Linked DNA regions of Homo sapiens: region 1 is linked to region 2. A link means that fine-mapping ties the variant in region 2 to the expression of a gene that starts in the linked region. Tissue or cell type: whole blood. Region 2 holds a variant in brackets; the other region holds the start of a gene. All regions are shown on one strand. Distances are from middle to middle.

Region 1 (2,605 bases), 160 kb before region 2:
GATGGTAGGACTGGAGATGGTAGGGGCTGCTGATGTGAGCCCACAATACGGAGGAGTGGGGCACAGAGTCCCTAACTGGCGCCCCAACAGAAGGCGGTGGTGGGGACCGGAGATGGTAGGACTGGAGATGGTGGGGGCTGCTGGGAGCCCCTTTTGCGCCGCAGTGTTTCCTGCCATGAAGAGTTGCCGCCGGTCACAACCCTTCCCCGGGGGCGCCCCGAATGTGGGACTCCTTCCGGCCTGGGGTGCGTGAGGGGGACTCAGGGGTTGCCCGGTCTGGAGGAGAGACTCGCCGCCACCTACCCCGGGAACCGCAGACTCTGGGTCTGGGATAAAGCGTCCCCTACCCGCAAGCTCGGTTTGTGCGCTACTGTGCAATCTGTCTTTTGCCTGCAGACGCCCAGCCGCTCGCCCTGCGCGGGTCTCGGAATGTCCAGGGGTCCCTACTGGGGATCACAACCCGGCGAAATGTCGCATTTGCCACCACCTATCTCGACTGCGTAATCGGCTTTCAGCCGCAGACGCTCAGGTCCTGCAGCACCCGCGGGGATCCGTGTAGGAACCTGCTGCCGCTGGATGGACTGAGCGATTGCTTCGCGGGTGTCACGCACCAGACGCCGTGCCGGGAGCGCCGGGAAGGGGGTACGCGCCCCAACCCCGGCCGGGGGAGGGCGCACTCTGGCTCCTCTCTGCGTTTTGAGCCTCCCCTCCCCCGCCAGGCGTATCGCAAAAGGCACCTCCATCGCAGAGCACCATGTGTTGTGCTTCTACTCAGCTCGGTGGCGAGCGGGGCCCCAGCATGCGCATCTGGAAAGCGGGGGAGATTACCCTGGAGCTCGGGTGGGGACGGCGTGGGCTGACTTGATATAAGACGACACCCACGGAGCCAGATCCGTTCTAGGGACTTGGCAGGTTCCTCTCCCTCCCCAGTGAGATCCGTCGTTCTTTGCAGCAATTAGGGGAGGGAAAAAAAAGACCCACAGTATCACGTTTGGAGAGGGTTAGGAAGATGGCTCTCGAGTTGCAGGCCGCCCTGGTGGCTAGACATTGGTGTAGTTTGTGCCTGGCCTCGGTTTCCTGATCTGTAAACTGGGAAGAAGGCCCAAGTCATGAGGCCTGTGACTGTAGAATGGCTGAAGGCACTGGTGCACTCGCAGCCGGTCCTTCCGGGGTCCAGCTTCCCGAAGGACTGGGCAGCCCCGGGGCGAACCCCTCTGGAGCTACCAGGAGAACGTGCGACCGGGTTCGGCGCCCCAGCCGGCAAGTGAGCGCCCAGCGGAGCGCAAGGGCGGGGCCCGCGCGGGCCGGAGACGCCCGTTCGCTGTCGGCCAACCAGCGCCTGTCTCTGAACAGCCAATGAACACGCGTCTTACAGCCAAGGCCGGGTCGGGAGCGAGGCTGCGGCGAGTGCGGCGCTGACAGAGACGCGCGCGCGCGCGATCGCGCTCGGACCCCGGCCGCTGCCGCCATCACTGTCGCCCGCCCAGTCGCCCCTCAGCCGCTTCCCCTCGCCATGGAGGCGAGGCCGCCGCCGCCGCCGCGGGGCTCGGAGCCGCGGGCCGGGCGGCGGCCCTGAGGGCTAGTGGCGGCCCGAAACGCCGCCGCGGAGCCGAGGCGGAGCCGCTGTCCTCGTCCCCAGCGGTCCCGCCCAACGCCCGACTCTGTGAGTGTTCGCGGCCGCTGCGCCCGGGTGGGCTCCGGAAGGGGGAGCGGCTCCCGGGGGCGGTGGGAGGGGTCCCGGGCCACAGCCCAGAGCCCGGAGCCCGAAGCCCTAAGCCATCTTTTCCGGGTAGAAGCCTGCGGGCGCCTGCAGGTTGATTGTGCATCCTTGCGGGTCCGTCGCGGGGAGGGGGTCCCCGGAAACGTGCCGGCCCGAGTGCCGACCCCTCGCGACTGCCCAGGAACTTTGCATGCGTCCTTCTGGGACCAGGCCAGGGCACTGCCAGAGTTGATTCTCAGAGAAGAAACTTAGAACGGCGAGAACAGAATTTGCTCAGGTCCATTTAATGGGAGGAAAGAGGAAAACTCTTGGCATGAGAAAATTTGCTTTTGCAGTGACCAACTTTTCTTTCCCTTCAAGTCCACCTCCCTCGGTCCCCCGGCCCGTCTCCCAGGCCCCTCTCCTTGCCGCCCTCTCCCAACTGTTGAGGCTGTTTAAGAAGGGAAATAAGGGCTGAGAGCTGCCCAGAATTCAGAATAGGCCAATTGAGAACGCAGGTCCCCTCCCTTTTTACTTTCGGTAAATAAAAAATTTTTTTTGAAAAAATTAGTTACTAATTATATCTCCTGAAGATTAAAAAAAAAAAATAGCAGAGCAGAGTCCTGTCTTGAGGGTTTCGTTTTTATTTTTGAGATCACTGATGATATTTGTAAGACAGGAAAAGAAGAATGTGCAAATCCACCCTCTGCAGGGTGAACGCCATCAGAAGCCTTTGCTCAGGAGAGGGATTCCGGCTCTAGAACCAGTCCACATCACCCTGGAGATGGCTTCGTTTGCCACCTGCTAGCTGTGCAGGCAGCCTGAGAAACAGAAGATGGTGGGCGAGAGGAGGACTGACTAGGAAAGGGCGAACATCTTCCTGCCTGGCCACTCCTTTCAGAAACA
Region 2 (2,754 bases):
ACTCCTGACCCCAAGTGATCCGCCCGCCTTAGCCTCCCAGAGTGCTAAGATTACAGGCATGAGCCATTGCGCCTGGCCTCCTTCTGCTCTATTTTAATCAAAAGGGTCCACCAGGATGCCTGGGTTCCCTCAGCAGCTGCAGCTTGGACCATCATCAGCCTGGGCAGACAGAGCAGTGCCAGGAACTCCCATGCTGGGTCAACCCTAGGCCTAGCCCAACCCTAGGCCTCATCCTGCTTCTCTAAAGCATAGTGAAACCTGATAGCATTAGTCTTCACAAAGCTGTGTGTCCCCATCACCATGTCCGCCTTAGACCTCATAAGAGACATAAGACATAAGAGACTTCATGCTATCTGGTGGAAAGACAAAGTAGGAGAAAAGACAGAAAACCTTCCCTGTTTCACTTCTTTAAGATGCTATTATCTAGAGGCCGTAACGTGAACACACAAATCTGAGATGAAACTCCAGTCCCCAGCTTTTCTTCTACTGGTCTTGAATCCCCATTCCCCATCTTCTGTCCCTCACCCACTGATGACTTTAACACCTGGCTTACTGCTCCTTTTGAGCCCCTGTTCCTGACTCTGCTTTTGGAGGCATCAGTCACCATGTGGATGATCCATCTATCCTCAATCTTTCTATTCCTCAGCTTCCTCAGCCACCTGATCCCATGGTCAAGTCACCATCTGCCCTGTATCTGCACTGCCCTTGGAATCTCAACAAGGCATCCGCCCTGTTTACTGCCTCCTTCCTCCCACCTCAGTATTCTCTTTTATTCCAGTCATTTTTGTCTTCATCAAGTCCTTAGAGTTATTGATGCCTCCACTTTCTCAACATCAGTCACACCGAACATGTCCTCACCTTCCTCCTTACTCTGTGTGTTTTTGAGTTCTGTTTTTGAGCGTTTGAGTTTTCTGATTTGAGTTTTTGTGGTATGTCATTATTACCTTTCCTTATTCCCTCATGCTTTCTTACTTTCATAGCAAACTCTCTAGTAAAACCCAGTTATATGCCTCTATCTGATATAGCAAACATCACTGGGCAAAAACACAAAACAGTGCCAAATGCTCTCACACTGAACTCATGACCACAAATCTCATAGAGGTAATTGGTGCCACCTAGCAATGCTATTGCTCTTTCTTTTCTTCCTGAAACCTCCAGCATCTGCTCTTGCCTGTCCCATCATACTCACACCTTAGCTTGTGACCTGGCCTCATTCTTCTCCAAGAAATCAGACAAGAACACTGTCATCCTCCCACCCCCAAACAACCAGCCTCTTCAAATCTGTACCAACTCTATTCTCTCTTGTTACAGTGGAAAAGGGTTTCTGCATCTCTCAATCCACCTGTCCACTGTGCTCTTGGCCCCATTCCGTCCTGCCTGCTCAGGGATGTTGCTGCTATAACCATCTTCTCTCCCACCTCCATCAGCAGTTCCCCTCTTTAACCACTACTCTCATCAGCCTATACATGTTACATTTCCTATCTTTTAAAAACAAAAAATCTGCTAATCTCACTTTCCCTTCCACCTACTATCCTATTTCTCTGCACCCCTTCCCAGCAAAACTCCTTTAAAGAGTTGGCTTTCGGCCGGG[C/T]GCGGTGGCTCACGCCTGTAATCCCAGCACTTTGGGAGGCCAAGGTGGGCGGATCACAAAGTCAGGAGATCGAGACCAGCCTGGCCAACATGGCAAAACCCCATCTCTACTAAAAATACAAAAATTAGCTGGGCGCGATGGTGCATGCCTGTGATCCCAGCTACTCGGGAGGCTGAGGCAGGAGAATCGTTTGAACCAGGGAGCTGAAGGTTGCAATGAGCCAAGATCGCGCCACTGCATTCCAGCCTGGTGGCAGAGTGAGACTCCATCTCAAAAAAAAAAAAAAAAGAGTTGGCTTTCTCCCTGCAAGTTCTCTGTTCGCTCTGTTCCTTCCAGGCTTGGCCCCACTGGGACTGCTTTAGTCAAGATCACCAGTGACTGTCCTCTTGCCAAATCCAAAGGTCATTTCTCTTTTCTGATTTTTTTTTTTTTGTCCTTACAGCAGCATTTGAAAGAGTCAGTACCTCCCTCCTCTTCCTCAGAACACTTACTTCCGTAGCATCACCCCACTCACTAACCTGGCAGCTCCTTTGTTATTTCTTTGTGACCTCCTCCTCTAAAACATTGGAGTATACTAGACTCGGGCGCTAGCCCACTCTGTTTTCTTTTGACACACTAGCCCTTCAGGATCTCAGCCAGTCCTATGGCTTTAAGTACAACCCATATGCCAGGGATCCTCAATCTGCGTCTCTAGGCCAGTCACCTGTCCCCCTTCCCAATGTGGGCTCCTGATTTCCTCCTTCCCCCGACACCAGTCCACCCCACTCTTAGCCATCTAAATAAATAGTACCACCTTCTGCCCAGTTGCTCATGTCTAAAATCCGGGAGTTACCTTCCTTCCTCCCCTCTCCTCACCCCTCACATCCAGTCTGCCACTGAGTCCTGATACAGGCAGAGCCTCCCCACTTTTCTCCAGCGTAACTGCTGTCATCTGAACAAGCCCTCGTCTCTCACTGCTTGCCCGTGGGACTGTGGGCATGACTCATATGCGCAGCCTCGTCTGCAGTGGCCTGGCAACTGGTCCTCCTGCTCTCATCCTAACCCACTTTTAGTTTTTCAAATGGCAGCTGCTGGTCCTTTTGAAAATATAAATCATTGTCACTCCTTGTCTTACAAATCCTGTTTGAGGCCAGGTGCGGCAGCTCACGCCTGTAATCCCAGCA

Evidence for each region. PIP is the estimated chance that this variant, and not a neighbour inherited with it, causes the effect.
Region 1: PTPRA starts here. The variant in region 2 is fine-mapped to the expression of PTPRA in whole blood (TOPMed, PIP above 0.99).

What each region holds. Positions count from the first base shown.
Region 1 is chr20:2,872,098-2,874,702 of GRCh38, forward strand. PTPRA (protein tyrosine phosphatase receptor type A) reads left to right here and starts at 1,384. Exons shown (of 24, transcript NM_001385305.1): 1 at 1,384-1,663. RefSeq lists enhancers at 1-131, 132-761, 762-1,393, 1,394-2,023 and silencers at 508-647, 1,268-1,337, 1,518-1,567, 1,578-1,857.
Region 2 is chr20:3,030,902-3,033,655 of GRCh38, forward strand. All of the region lies in intron 20 of PTPRA (protein tyrosine phosphatase receptor type A), which reads left to right. Among named protein-coding and RNA genes, the nearest start is that of GNRH2, 11 kb to the right of the region's middle. The variant C/T (reference allele first, on the strand shown) is at 1,592.